Linked DNA regions of Homo sapiens: regions 1 and 3 are each linked to region 2. The links come from fine-mapping of genetic effects on gene expression. A gene starts in region 2. Each other region holds a variant in brackets. All regions are shown on one strand. Distances are between the middles of the regions. Region 1 overlaps TPD52-MRPS28 (TPD52-MRPS28 readthrough). Region 2 holds the start of TPD52 (tumor protein D52). Region 3 overlaps TPD52-MRPS28 (TPD52-MRPS28 readthrough).

Evidence for each region. PIP is the estimated chance that this variant, and not a neighbour inherited with it, causes the effect.
Region 1: its variant is the best candidate, but not a certain one, in a credible set for the expression of TPD52 in tibial nerve (GTEx, PIP 0.69).
Region 3: its variant is the best candidate, but not a certain one, in a credible set for the expression of TPD52 in whole blood (INTERVAL, PIP 0.70).

The regions. Positions count from the first base shown.
Region 1 is chr8:80,135,112-80,140,339 of GRCh38, reverse strand. All of the region lies in intron 1 of TPD52-MRPS28 (TPD52-MRPS28 readthrough), which reads left to right. The region is part of intron 1 of TPD52 (tumor protein D52); the gene reads left to right. Among named protein-coding and RNA genes, the nearest start is that of TPD52, 34 kb to the left of the region's middle. RefSeq lists an enhancer at 1,712-1,761. The variant C/T (reference allele first, on the strand shown) is at 3,138.
Region 2 is chr8:80,168,436-80,173,663 of GRCh38, reverse strand. It overlaps TPD52 (tumor protein D52), which reads left to right and starts at 2,100. Exons shown (of 8, transcript NM_001025253.3): 1 at 2,100-2,239. The coding sequence starts at 2,221. It overlaps TPD52-MRPS28 (TPD52-MRPS28 readthrough), which reads left to right and starts at 2,100. Exons shown (of 7, transcript NM_001387778.1): 1 at 2,100-2,239. The coding sequence starts at 2,221. RefSeq lists a silencer at 1,939-2,268.
Region 3 is chr8:80,115,224-80,120,451 of GRCh38, reverse strand. The region is part of intron 1 of TPD52-MRPS28 (TPD52-MRPS28 readthrough); the gene reads left to right. All of the region lies in intron 1 of TPD52 (tumor protein D52), which reads left to right. Among named protein-coding and RNA genes, the nearest start is that of TPD52, 54 kb to the left of the region's middle. The variant G/AAG (reference allele first, on the strand shown) is at 2,718.

The DNA.
Region 1 (5,228 bases), 33 kb after region 2:
TGGAGACAACTGTGGAGTAATTAGAATTTTACCTCATTTTAATTAAAAGATTCTAACTCTAACCTACCTTCCCAGGCATTTGGGAAAGGCACAGGTAGGTCTCCTTGCCAGTGAGGCTCCACTACTCACTTGTGGGGTTGACATCAGGAGAACCCAGGACTTGGGCCTTAGTGAGGTCTCACGTTCTCACCACTAAACAAAGAGAAAGCATTTATGCAGGCATCGAACCAGCGTCTGTGTGTCACAGCTGGACTGGTGCTGAAAAAATCACCAGGGCCTTAGCATAAAACAAAGGCTGCTTTATTATGTTGAGAGCATAAATAGGCTTCTTTTCTTTTTTCAGTCAGATATGAAATTAGAGTTGCTTACTGCTAACATGGAGCCTGCTGGATTGAGCTGTTTTGCTCACTTCTGCCAGATAATCAGAAGAGCCGGGTGGGGTCCCCTAGCTGGGTGACTGGGAGTCAGGCATCCATCCCCCGAACATCAGGCTCCCCATTTGTAAATGTCTTGTATTCCTGTCAAGATGGTTAGGAGGATTGAAAAACGCCGTTGTATTTTATTTGATTTTGATAATACACTTAACATGAGATCTAACCTCTTAACAAATTTTTAAGTGTATAATGCAGTATTGTTAGCTATAGTGTTCAAGTGCATTGGGAGGCGCTATCCAAATGCAACCCCTTCCCCGCCCTCACCCCCACCCCCCGTTTATTGCTACTTGTTATTTTCATGGTTGTGCTGAATTTTTCCCCAAGGCAAATCTTTACCTCTGCCCTTGAAGTTGCATATGCCCCAGAGTGGGTAATTATTAACTGTATTAATCTGGACCATATACTGTACAGTCTTTGGATAACCTGGACAGTTTATAATTTTAAATGTTTTAAAAGTTTGCAAGTCTGAAACTCTGAAAAAATTTTTTTTTTCATAAAAATACTAGCCTAGGCTGCTGATGGATGTGGGTTTCTTTTTGGGGTATGAAAATTAGATTGCGGTGATGTTTGCATAACTCTGTGAATATACTAAAAACCAGTGAACCATACTCTTTATAAAAAAATAGTGGATTTTATAGTATGCGAATTATTTCTCAAGCTGCTATTAGAAACAAAACACTGTCCTAATTGTTACTGTAAAAATACCCTTATTTTCTCCCCTCCCTGCCAGTGTCTTAGGCAGAGCAGCCATTCAGTAAATACAGGTGGCTGAGTGTTGAATAATATAGTTGAAATAATCCAAGTGGCACAAATAGATGAGAGTGGAAGTGGGGGCTGCAGTGTCAGTTGTAGAAATCTCACGGGAGGCAGACTCATGGGGTGGCTGAGACGGTGGCTCCTTTGTCAGTGGAGGCACTGGAGGAAGAAGACCCCACTAGCAGGAGAGGCTCTGGGTCGGAGGGGCTGCCATGATCCTGGAAACAGGTCATCTGGTTGGCTCGTGTTTGAAAGTTGAGAATACTAATATTTTATGGTCCAAATTTTGGTTACCTTGGCCTTGTAAATCAGGAAGCCGTCTGATGACAGGATGAGCCTAAGGTGGGGAGGGGAGGATGCGGTGAGCCACAGGTTCTCAATGTTCAGAGAGCCAGTGTCCTTAAATAGCGAGGTGAAGAGCTCAATTAGGAACCAAAGCCAAAAATGAGCTGAGGCAAGATGGTAGAACCCAGGCCTGGATCTGAGCAGTTGTCAAAAGTCTGGTTACAACATTTGAGAGTGTGGTGTTCAGCTACCTTTTTGGATTCAGTTTTAGTTTTTTATTTGCATATTCTTTTTCTTTTTGATAAAGCTCTATGAGGACTATGTTTTCAACTCCCTAGATGCATATAGTCCTGTACTCAGATATAATGTATCTAATCTCTTCCCAGATTTATAATTGCAAACCATAAGCCACTTTGAGTTGTGTTCCAGCACCTGCCGAAGGAGACGACTAAATGATATGAACCCCATTTTCCTCCTAAGAGGGCATTCAAATTCTCTTCCTCTTGGATTTTATGAAATCAGATTTCAGTTGGAAGATTCTGTCACTTGGCCTCTTATTGTCAAACACAGGTACCTTTTAACGCAGACTTCTACTGAGAAATAATTAGAGACAGGGTCTCATGGTCAGGCGCGGTGGCTCATGCCTGTTATCTCAGCACTTTGGGAGGCTGAGGCGAGCGGATCACCTGAGGTCGGGAGTTCACCACCAGCCTGACCAACATGGAGAAACCCCATCTCTACAAAAAATACAAAATTAGCCGGGCGTGGTGGCGCATGTCTGTAATCCCAGCAACTTGGGAGGCTGAGGCAGGAGAATTGCTTGAACCTGGGAGGCGAGGTTGCAGTGAGCCAAGATCGTGCCATTGCACTCCAGCCTGGGCAACAAGAGTGAAACTCTGTCTCAAAAAAAAGAAAAAAAAAAGAAAAGAGACGGGGTCTCATTCTGTCGCTCAGGCTGGAGTGCAGTAGCACAATCATGACTCACTGCAGCATTGAACTCGTGGGCTCAAGTGATCCTCCCGCCTTGGCCTCCCAAAGTGCTGGAATTACAGGCCACCCTACCTTGCTGAAATATTTAAATTCTGAAGGACCAAACTATCCCCTTCTCAAAGAACAATATGAACTAGCACCGTTATAAACTTGGTACTGCTGTAAGAGTCCTACTCCTGAGGGCTTCCACCCATCTTATTTTCATACTTATGAAAAATAATACATGTTCAAAGCAAATGAATCCAAACAGTATGCAATTAAAACTCAAACTCTCTTAGCCTAGACCCATTTCTCCCAGAGCGGCTGTTATGATCAGCCTCTGGGTGTCCTTCCAGAAATGTCTAGGCAGGTAATGTATACAATCACTTTAAAAGTTCAAATGGGAACATGTCATACACATTATTCTGTACTTTGCTTGTTTTAACTGACACGTATCTTGGATATTAAAAAAAAAATCTAACATATAGTTTCCATTTTTTAAGAAAAAAGCTTTATTGATATATAATTTGCCATAAATAATCACCATATAGTTTACCTTAAAATTCACTTGTTTTAAATGTACAATTCAGTGATTTCTAGTAAACTTACAGAGTTGTGCAGTGATCACCACAATCTAATTTTAGAATATTTTCATCACCCTGTGTCTATTTACAGCCACTCCACATCCCGTGC[C/T]CGCAGGCAAACACTTATCTATTTAGTTTCTATAGATTGATTTTATTACTCTTTTTAATAGCAACCTGTGGTCCATTTTGGAAAAATACAAACATGTATTTAATTGTGCTTTATCCAAGCACATTTAGCTTTTGCTGATGTTTTATTTTGCTGCCTGCCTACTTTAAAAAAAATTGGAAAAGATTGAAATTTTGTCTTTGAGCCATACTTGTTAAGAGTGATAAGGGAGTTTTAGCTGAAGTTGTTTGTAGATTTTCCAGTCATTACCTGTGGAACTAGGAGAAGAATTTTGGGGCCTGGATAATTATTTATATTTGAATAGAAACTGCCTGAGGTTGTTCTTGATTAGATGAAAGCCCCAGCATTTATTGTGTATTTTATGGATGTGGGTGAAGTGGAACTAAGTATTTACACATGATTGGGGTGAAGGGGGATTTATTATTTCAGTTTTTTGCCTTTGTCTCTACCTAGGAGGATTTTAGGAGCTGTTGAGTGTTCAGAAGTATGTCTTCGGATATATTCTCCATACTGTTTCTTGGGACCTTTTACTGGGTTGTGGATTTTGACCAAGTGTTTTTTTAAGAAGAACAAAGTAGTAGAACAGTATGAGACCAAAATGTCCTTCATGTTCTAATGGTGAGCACTGTTTTCTTTTTTTTTTTTTTTTTTTTTTTTTTTTGAGACAGAGTCTCGCTCTGTCGCCCAGGCTGGAGTGCAGTGGCGTGATCTCAGCTCACTGCAAGCTCTGCTTCCCGGGTTCCTGCCATTCTCCTGCCTCAGCCTCCTGAGTAGCTGGGACTACAGGTGCCCACCACCACGCCCGGCTAATTTTTTGTATTTTTAGTAGAGATGGGGTTTCACCGTGTTAGCCAGGATGGTCTCGATTTCCTGACCTTATGATCCACCCGTCTCGGCTTCCCAAAGTGCTGGGATTACAGGCGTGAGCCACCGCGCCCGGCCATTGTTTTCTTAAATGTCAACTTTTGTTTAAATGTGTGTGTGAGTGTGCTTGTTTTTTTTTTAACCTCAAAGACTGAAATTTTTTTTTTTAATTAATTAATTTATTTTTTATTATACTTTAAGTTTTAGGGTACATGTGCACATTGTGCAGGTTAGTTACATATGTATACATGTGCCATGCTGGTGCGCTGCACCCACTAACTCGTCATCTAGCATTAGGTATATCTCCCAATGCTATCCCTCCCCCCTCCCCCCACCCCACAACAGTCCCCAGAGTGTGATATTCCCCTTCCTGTGTCCATGTGATCTCATTGTTCACTTCCCACCTATGAGTGAGAATATGCGGTGTTTGGTTTTTTGTTCTTGTGATAGTTTACTGAGAATGATGATTTCCAATTTCATCCATGTCCCTACAAAGGACATGAACTCATCATTTTTTATGGCTGCATAGTATTCCATGGTGTATATGTGCCACATTTTCTTAATCCAGTCTATCATTGTTGGACATTTGGGTTGGTTCCAAGTCTTTACTATTGTGAATAATGCCGCAATAAACATACGTGTGCATGTGTCTTTATAGCAGCATGATTTATAGTCCTTTGGGTATATACCCAGTAATGGGATGGCTGGGTCAAATGGTATTTCCAGTTCTAGATCCCTGAGGAATCGCCACACTGATTTCCACAATGGTTGAACTAGTTTACAGTGTGCTTGTTAAGTAGTAATTATCAGAAATGTTGGAAAACCAGTGCCTTAAGAGTAAGGGTATATTCAGGCTTCCTCTTTGTCAGAGCTCTAACTCTCCTGGGGGGCAGGTAGGCTGGGGCAGGTAGGGTGAGAAGACTCAGGTAGTTCACCGAGATAAAACTTTGTTGAGGTTGGCTGGGGAAGTGAGCCAGTTGTCTTGGGAAGTGGGAGGTGAAAATGAAACTCCCTGTGTGACCACTTTTCTCTATCAAAAATAATAAATTATTTCAAATGTTCTAAATAAGGAGGCTTTGGATAGATTTTAGTCAGCTTGTTAGCTATTCAATTCTGGCAACAACCGTGTGTACATCTAGACTAGGGAGACGTTTACAATTAAATTCACTGGGTCTTGTGGTTGGAAGTAACCTGAAGGGATATCTATGC
Region 2 (5,228 bases):
GTAAGTTAAACAGATACAAACAATAAATATTTGTAACGGACACTCACGTTCAAGTGCTATTTATTTGTCCACAAATTAGTACATTGAGAGATTGTCTCTCCAGATGTTTATTTCTATACAATAGATCTCAGCATCAGCTAGTCAAAAATTCTTTACCACATACAGAATTTTCTGCTGATGCCAAAATTTACCTTTATGTTACATTAAAAATTTTTTAAAAAATATTGCACCTTTTTGGGCTCAAGCAATCCTCTTGCCTTAGCCTCCTGAGTAGCTGGGTTTACAGGCAAACACCACCATGCCTGGTTTAAAATTACAATATTTATTAATTGCATGGTAGAATTAAAGGATGCAGAGATGACCAAAATAATCTTTGCCCACCTGGAACTTTTTTTTTTTTTTTTGAGATGGAGTCTCACTCTGTTGCCCATGCTGGAGTGCAGTGGCGTGATCTCAGTTCACTGCAACCTCTGCCTCCCGGGTTCATGCCATTCTCCTGCCTCAGCCTGCCGAGTAGCTGGGACTACAGGCGCCCGCCACCACACCTGGCTAATTTTTGGTATTTTTAGTAGAGATGGGGTTTCACCGTGTTAGCCAGGATGGTCTCGATCTCCTGACCTCGTGATCCGCCCGCCTCGGCCTCCCAAAGTGCTGGGATTACAGGCGTGAGCCACCGCGCCCGACAATTTTTGTATTTTTAGTAGACACAAGGTTTCACCATGTTGGCCAGGCTGGTCTCAAACTCCTGACCTCAAGTGATCCACCCGCCTTGGCCTCCCGGAGTGCTGGGATTACAGGCGTGAGCCACCGTGCCAGGCCTGTTTTTTGATTTTTTTAATAGGCCATTTTAAGGACTTTACCACCTGGAGCTTGTAACCTAATAGGACTGTGAAACATACACTGGTAGCATCCTGGCACCAGTGCTGGGGTGAGTGCCACAGGAGAGGAGCCAAGTGCAGTCAGAGTAGAAGGACTCAAATAGAAGAGATCACATCTGGTTGAGTCAAACAGTAAACGTCCCCAGAAGACACTGGAAGATGCAGGCTGGAGAGAGCTACACTTTACATACAGCACGACAGTATAGAGATATTAATAGCATACAGTCACTTCAGGTAACTACAAGTAATTTTAAAACATCTGAATAAGTGCTTCTTTGTTGTCTGTGGAGTGCTACACAATGCTTCGGCCTAAACGTCAAGCAACACAGAAAAGAAGCCCCACTTCATTTGCAGCCTCAGATAGCTTACGAAATTGAGACACCACCTGAAGACCATGACCCATACAATCAAAGTGACTTCATGGAAGACGAGTAACTGCAAAACCCTGTGAAAACAGATTGTTAACGCTACTAATGAAAAGAACTGGATTGTTACGGGAACCTCAAACTGTCCTTTGATCAACGGACATGACGCCTCAACACGCATTTTCCAAAGATCTCTGCTGATAATTCTGACCTTCGGTTAATTTAATTAATTTCATTTGATTTAATTCATTTTAGTGTTGTCCTCAGTCCCGCACTCAAAACAGATTTTTATTATATGAAAATCTTCCTAGTCACCTAAAAAATCCGCATTCTATGGAAAAGACTATATAATTTTTCAAGAGATTCTTTGCAATTTTCACCTATGCTGGTTTATGACCTAGTTAGAGAAGACATCATAGGGCATTATTTAGGTAATAAAATACAGAGAGAAAAGAGCCACTGGCATTTCTAAATAACGTTCCTGTGTTTCCTACTGTAAGTATAGGAAAGTAGGTGTTCGCAGATGCAGAGAAAGGGCATCTCCAAGGCCTCGGAGGAAACTTTTGATTTTATAAATAACTTGATGGTGGAAGGCAAACGCCATCCCGGTTCCCAAGCAGGCTCCACGCAGCCTCCATGGCCGAGTCCATCTCCTCGCCGTCCTCTTCCCTCCTCCCGGCCGACTTCCAGCCGGTGCGGGAGTCGGGGTGCGCCCGGCCCTCCTAGCGCTGCGCCGCCCGCGCCGACGTGGCGGAGCGCACAGGTCGACCGGGTCAGGTGGTTGGGTGACGCCCCAGGAAAGCGCTCCAGGCCGAGGGCGGGCGGCGCCGCCGCGCCCGACGCCTCTGGGGGTGGGGACTTCGCGGGAGTCGCCGGCGGAGGCGAGGAGGAGCTCTGCGCGGCGCGGCGGGCGATCCGAGCCGGGACGGGCTGCAGGCGGGGGTGCTGCAGAGGACACGAGGCGGCGGGCTGGAGACATGGACCGCGGCGAGCAAGGTGAGGGCGCGGACCCAGCGGGCTTGGGCTCGGGCTTGGACTCGGGCTTGGACTCGGGCTTTGGCTCGGCGCGGGGCTGAGCGCGGCCCGGCGGCTCGAGCAGGTGCCGAGCCTCCTGGGCCGGCGCCGCAAGTTGCATCTCCCGGATCCGGATCTGGCATCCTGGGGCCCTGGAAGGAGCGGCTCTGGCGGGGGCAGATGGGACTGCATGTGTGAGTGTGAGTGTGCGTGTGTGGGGGAGAGGGAGAGAAGGTTCTGGGAGGTGGCGAAGGGGCTAGCGTCAGGGGCTGGCGGCCGTGATGCGCTTTGGGTGGAAAGCCGCGTGAAGGGAGCACGGCGCAGCCAGCTCCTGTAAGTGACTGGAACCAGGAACAGAGGACAGTGAGTCGCTCTCGTCCCTCCAGGTGGGAAACCCCTCTCTCCCTCATAAATTAAGACTTTCTGCCTTCTTCTAAGTTCAGGTGGTTAGGATTTTTGGTGGCGTATGACCCATGGGGGGTTTGGGAGGCAGATATTTATCATACTAGAAACCCCCAGATTGTGGAGTGGTGTCTGTGGGTTTGAGGGAAGAGAGCTTTTCGTAGGAAGGGTGAAATCCCACAACACAAAACCTTCAGTCTAATTTACCATAGCGTTGGGTGCACTTGCTTCTGAAAACAGCTCAAGTGAAATTACCCCCAAATAGAGCAATAGTAGGCCATGGTTTTCAGATTTAAATAGTTTCATCCTAGAGATCTCTGCTGATCATAAGCCTGTGACTGTACGCAGATGTGTGTGGCACGCTTTTAAAAAGATACATAAATGCTGAAAAAAGAAAACAAGGTAGGTAATCTTGGGAAGTGAGGATAGGAATCACTCCTGTTTTGAGCCCTGACACAAGTTTTCATGTATTGCTTATTTTCCTCCAGTATGTGCCGTCATGTGTGCATTTTTATGTAAATCAAACCATATTCCAAATATACTATCTTGTACTTTATTTTTTTCAGACTCTGGTGTTTTTTTTGTTTGTTTTTTTGAGTCTCCACCTGTAGCCCAGGCTGGAGTGCAGTGGCGGGATCTCAGCTCACTGCAACCTCTGCCTCCCTGGTTCAAGTGATTCTCCTGCCTCAGCCTCCCAAGTAGCTGGGATTACAGGTGTGCGCCACCACAGCCCGGCTAATTTTGTATTTTTAGTAGAGACAGAGGTTTCTCCATGTTGACCAGGCTGGTCTCCAAGTCCTGACCTCAGGTGATCCACCCGCCTCAGCCTCCCAAAGTGCTGGGATTACAGGTGTGAGCCACTGGGCCAGGCCTGTACTTTACTTTCATTTACTTGTAAGATAGACTCTTTGGAGTCTTTCAGCTCTTTCCTCGCTCCCCTTCAGATTAATTTCAGACTTAACACAAGTGCTTACAAACATTACATACAATATGCTTTATATGTGTTACCTATGTGTATATATATATTATACATTACCTGTATAACGTATATATACACATACATATTATTATCTAAATTTTAAGCTTCTTGAGGTTAGAAACATTTCATCTTTGGTTGTCCTGAGTGGGATAACATGATGACTTGTACATAGTAGACATGCAAATGTTTGAGTTAGAAAGCTTGTCACATGTCTTGTATATATTGTTAGCCGGCTTAGGGGCCACCATGTAAGTCAGCATTATGTCTGTCTGGCTTTCAATGGGGGCGACGCAGGACGGGGGAGACATGACGACAAACGTGCCCATGTGTATTTGTATACTAATCTGTTACACACTGTCGTTTGACATAATGATGTTTTTAGAATAACTATGTTTGGTACTTGTCAAAGTAAATTAAACGGCTGTGTTTTACTTACGTGAGTGGAGTAACTAGTTTTAGTAGTGTTTGTGTTCTAGCTTGGGTGGTAAGAATCAACAGTCATTGGTAGCACTGCAGTATTCCAACTTCTTGTGTAGTTTTTATAGGACTAGTTTAAGTGTCTAATTCTAAGACATATTTTTTTCAAATCTTTATCTTGTAAGATGAGTCTTTTCGTGTCTATAATTTTCCCATATGTTCTTTGGGTGAGGTGGAGGACTCTGCTCCGAATGAAAGAAGAGGCACTGCCTTGGGAGGGTCAGTTCATTTACTCCAAAGCTTTGCTGTGTTAGAACAACGTGGCCAAGGCTGGGTGCGGTGGCTCACACCTGTAATCCCAGCACTTTGGGAAGCTGAGGCAGGCAGATCACTTGAGGCCAGGAGTTTGACCCCTGTCCAACAAGGTGGAACCCTGTCTCTACTAAAAATACAAAAATTAGCTCGGCGCGGTGGCACCGGCCTGTAGTCCCAGCTATTCAGGAGGCTGAGGCAGGAGAATCACTAGAAACTGGGAGGCAGAGGTTGCAGTGAGCTTAGATCAAACCACTGCACTCCAGCCTGGGCGACAGAGCGAGACTCTATCTCAAAAAACAAACAAACACAAAACAAAACCACCTGGCCATTCCTTACTCTTGCTTCCACCTGCCTACCTGCCTTTTCATCTTTATGTTACCAGTGCACACAGTAGGTGCTTAGAAATATGTGTTGACTGCCTAAGATGAGTGAGGAAAGTGTCCAAGAGCAGGCCCCAGCCATAGTAACCTCTGTGTCCCTCCAAATCCATCTCTTGTTTCCCACTTTCTCCTGTTCTGTTTTCCCTGTCTATTCTCAAGAAGCAGAACTTAGCCAGAGAGTTGCTGATAAGGCAGTGCTGGGCTTGGAGGATAACTTTACATGGAAGATCTTAGAACTAGTAGAGTGGATGACTCAGTCTTAAGTGAATCTGGAGCAAGACTCCTGCCTTAAACTGGAAAAGGCACAACCTGGGATTTTAAACCTGGTGTTCACTAGCAAACTGTGTTGGCTGAAATAAGGTTTATCAAACTCTGTGATTGTCTCCTGAATTGTGATTTTGGCAACATACTTAAAACCAAAGCAGAAAATTTTAGGATTTGTTGAACTTTTAATAGTTTTTAATGTACATGGAGTTTT
Region 3 (5,228 bases), 53 kb after region 2:
TGGAGTGCCGTGGCAGCTCACTGCAACCTCTGTCTCCTGGATTCAAGTGATTCTCGTGCCTCACCCTCCTGAGTAGCTGGGATTACAGACGTGAACCACCATGGCCAGCTAATTTTTGCAGTTTCAGTAGAGACAGGGTTTTGCCGTGTTGGCTAGGCTGGTCTGAACTCCTGACCTCAGGTGATCCACCTGCCTCGGCCTCCCACAGTGTTAGGATTACAGGCATGAGCCACCGCGTCCAGCCTATTATTTTTTTTTAGAAATATTCATTTAATTCCAATTTTGTTGTGCTTAGATACCATCTACTGAATCCTTATATATATACATGGTACAAGGTATGTAAACCTCTGTCTGTTATAAATATTTTCTCTCAGGCTGTCACTTGTCTTTTAACTTGTGCTATTCTATCATAACAGAGTTTTAATAGTATATAGTCAAATTTGTCAGTCTCTTAGTAACTTTTGAGTTTTTTATCCCAGAGAGATCCCATCAGTACCCAAATTATTAATGTCCTGTAGTTTTTCTAACATTTTAATTGTGTATATTTTCTAATGTTTTCTGCTATAGCTTTTTATTTCATCTGGAATTTCTGGCTTGAATTAGGGAAAGATTTATCTTTTCTCCACTCATATAAAATGTAAGTATTTTCATACATTAAATTCCTTTATATTTGTGGATCTATTTCTGGACTTGTTTCAAATGTTTTGTTTATTCTTATGCCAGTACTGTGTGGTTTTAAAGGCCATATATTCTTTTAATTTTAAAGAAGCTTATATTTTCTTTCACATGGTGTGAAACAAATTTTACATGAACAGCAAGGTATAAAGTAAAAAATTGAAATCCCTTTTTCTTGAACTCATTCACTATAGTTTCCCTTCCCAAAGTAAACTACTGTTAAATTTCTTGACTTTTTTTCCCCCAGAAAACTGTCCATGTACTAGCACATACACAAAGCCACGGGTAGAAGTTTACAATGGGATAGTATACACATTATTCTTTGCTTTGCTTTTTAAAAAAATAACATCTTTAAGATATAATTCTGATAACCATACAGCTCATTCAATCTATAATTCATTGGTTTTTAGTGTATCCAGATACTTGTACAACATTTACCACAATTTTAGAACATCAACCCAAAAGGATACTCCTTACCCATTAGCAGTCACTCCTCATTCCTCTCCCCACTTCCTTACTCCCAGCCCTAGGCAATTACTGATCTACTTTCTGTCTATAAATTTGCCTATTTTGGATATGTCATATAAATGGGTTTATACATATGTGGTCTTTTGTGTCTGGCTTCTTTCACGTCACATGATGTTTTCAGGGTTCATCCATGGAGTAGCATCTGTCATTACTTAATTTCCTTATTGCTGAATAATATTCCCTTGTATACATGTACCATATTTTATTTATTCAGTCATCAGTTGATGGACATTTGGGTTGTTTTTACTTTTTAACTACTTTGAATACTTGTGTATATTTGTGCATGTTTTTTTGTACAGACATATTGTTTTCATTTATCTTAGATATTTACCTAGGAGTGCAATTATGGGGTAATACAGTAATTTCTATATTTAACCTTTTGAGGAAATGCTAGACGGTTTTCTGAAGTGACTGTACTGTGTTACATACCTGTTAGGAGTGTATGAAGATTGTTGTTTCTCTGGATCGTCACCAACACTTATTATTGTCTTCTTGATTATAACCATTCTAGTGGGTGTGAAGCATGAGGTGGTTTTGATTTGCATCTCCCTGATGTCTAATGATGTTGGCCATCACTGTGTGTGCTAATTGACCATGTGTATGTCTTCTTTGGAGAAATGATTTATTCAGATTCTTTGCACACTTGAAAATTTGGTTGTCTTTTCATTATTGAATGGCAAGAGTTCTTTTTATTTTCTAGATACAATGCCATCATCAGATAGATGATTTTACAGTATTTCCTCACATTCTGTGGGTTGTCTTTTCACTTCGTTGACGGTGTGCTTGAAGCATAAAAGATTTTAATGTTGATGATGTCCAATTTATCTATCTTTTTTTGTGCTTTTGGTGTCCTGTCTAAGAAACCATTGCATGATCCAATGTAGAGTTATATCTGTGTTTTCCTCTAAGAGTTTTATAGTTTAAACCCTTACATTTAGGTCTTTGATTCTAAGTGTATGGTTTGAGGTAGGGGTCCAGTTTTATTCTTTTGCATGTGGCTATCCATTTTCCCCAGCACCATTTAATGAAAAGACTATTTTTCCATGTCAGACTGTCTTGGCACCTTGTCAGAAATCAATTAACCTTAACTGTGAATGTCTATTTCCGAACTCTGAATTCTATTCCATTGACCTATATGTCTATTCTTATATCTATAACACATTATCTTGATTACTGTAGTGTTGTAGTGAAGTTTGAAATTAGAAGGCTTGAGTCTGGGTTGGGTGCGGTGGCTCACACCTGTAATCCTGGCACTTTGGGAGGCTGAGGTGGGCGGATCACGAGGTCAGGAGATCGAGACCATCCTGGCTAACATGGTGAAACCCCATCTCTACTAAAAATACAAAAAATTAGCTAGGAGTGGTGGCACGCGCCTGTAGTCCCAGCTACTCGGGAGGCTGAGGCAGGAGAATCGCTTGAACCTGGGAGGTGGAGGTTGCAGTGAGCCAAGATTGCACCACTACACTCCAGCCTGGGCAATAGAGCAAGACTCTGTCTCAAAAAAAAAAAAAAAA[G/AAG]AAAGAAAAAAAAAGAAAGCATGAGTCCTCTAAGTTGTTCTCTCTTTCAAGATTGTTTTGGCTACTCTGGGTCCGTTGAATTTCTGTGAGAATTTTAGGATCAGCTTGTCAATTTTTGTCAAGAAGTCAGCTGGGATTTTGATAGGCATTACACTGAATCTGTAAATTGATTGAGAGGTATTGTCATCTCCACAATATTAAGTCTTCAGACCCATGAATATGGATGTCTTCCCATTTTTTTAGACTTGCCATTTATTTAAATGTATTTAATTTCTTTCAGCCATATTTTGTAGTTTTCAAAGTATAAATTCTCTTATTAAATGTATTCTTTTCAATGCTGTTGTAAATACAATTTTGTCTTAATTTCAATTTTAGGTTATTCATTGAAATTGTATAGATACGTGATAAGTTTTGTGAATTGATCTTATAAGCCTGCAAAGTTGCTGAACTCATTTATGAGTTCTAATAGTTTTTTAATGGATTCCTTATTATTCTATACATGAGATTATGTTACTGCAAATGGAAATTGTTTTACTTTTTCATTTCCAAAACGGATGCCTTTTAGTCCTTTTTCTTGCCTAAGTGTCCTGGCTAGAACCTCCAGTTCAATGTTAAATAGAAGTGATAAGAACAAATACCCTTTCTGTTCCTGGTCTTAGGGGAAAAACATTCGGTCTTTGTTAACTAAGATGTTAGCTGCGGTTTTCCATAGACACCCTTTATCAAACTGAGGAAGTTCCTTTACATTCCTAGTTTGTTGAGTGTTTTGATCATAAAGGGTGATGAATCTTGTCAAATGCTTTTTCTATGTCTCTTGCATCTATTTTGATGATCATATGTTTTAGTCCTTTATCTATTGATATGATTACATTGATTGATTTTTGGATGTTAAAACAAACTTACATTCCTGGGATAAATTCTACTTGCTCATACTAAATAAACTTTTTTTTTTTTTTTAACATTCCTAGATAATGGTTTGCTAGTATTATGCTGAGGACTTTCGTGTCTGTATTTATTAGAAATACTAGTCTGTCGTTTTCTTGTGATATCTTTGTCCGATTTTGGTAGCAGGGTAATACTGGCCTCATAGACTGAGCTGCATAGCATTTCCTCCTCTTCTATTTTATGCTGAAAGTATTTGTGAATAATTGGTATTCATTCTTCTTTAAATATTTGGTAGAATTCACCAGTGAAGCCATCTGGGAGTAGGCCTTTGCATGTGGGTGGTTTTTGAATATCTTTGCTTGTTAGAGGTCTTTTCAGATTTTCTGTTTATTCTTGAGTCAATTTCAGGATTTTGTGTCTTTCTAGGAATTTGTCATTTCATCTAAGCTAACCAATCTGTTGGCACACAGTTGGTCATAGTATTACTTTATAATCCTTTTTATTCTGTATGGTTGGCAATAATGATTGCTGTTTTAATTCAGGATTTTAGTTCTACCTTGCTTTTTAATGCTTTATATTTTAGAGATCTTTTTGTAAAAATTGAATTCATCTTTTAGTGACCACATAGTGTTCCATAACTAACCTATTTATGGTCATTAATGTTATGAATAATGCCACAGTTAATATCTTTTGATATATTGTAGGGTACTTTTGGTGATAGTGTGTTTCTGAGGGTAAATTCTTAGCAGTTGATTTGTTAGGTCAAAGGGATATAATGTTCAATATTAGTAGATATTGACAAATTATCCTTTATAGAGTTTGCACTATTTACATTTATTTTTCTATACTATGATATCCTTTACTTCTTTGTCTTTTATTGGGTTATTTATTTTAACAAGTTTTTGTTATATTAAGAAGAAATTAGCCTTTGTCATATGTCTTCCAAATATTTTTTCCTTGTTTATAGTTTCTTTTGACCTTGTTGAACATTTTTTGCCATACGGAAGTTTTAAAGTTTTGTGTGGTCAGATTTATCCTCCATTTCCGTTCTGGCTTCTGGACTGGTATCACTGCCATGTATCACACGGTATTACTGCCATATAAATAGGCTCTGTTAGGCTTCAAGAAACAAGTGATGGATTTTATTGAATTCATAGAGAATAAGAAAAGTAGGACTAGCCACACAGTTAAGTTTATGTTTTGGGGATACAGCAGTCTTCCAGGAGTTAGTCTGTAAGGTCTGCCCTCTGCAGGGAGCTTGATTGAAAATCTAGTAGTTGGCTGTTCAGAGATGACATTCCATTCCTCTCTTGCCTCCCTTCCTTCTCTCTAGGTGACATTCTACTGTTATGGTTCTGCTGCCTTTTCCGCCGCTTGTATGACTCTTGATCTTTCTTGTTTATTGAAGCCTTATAGCTTCTGCTCTCTTGCTCTGCTTTTCGTCATCTCTCTGTAGGTCATTGTGGCTTCTGTGCCCATTGGTAAGTACTGACTCTTGGTATCTCCATTTTAGACTCCTGTTCAGAGGAGAGATCAGATTGGTTTGTCAGGTCACTGTTTTTTATTCATTGTAGACCACTGTAGACGGGCGGAGACTTTCTGCCAAGCCTGTCTTCAGTCTGCAGA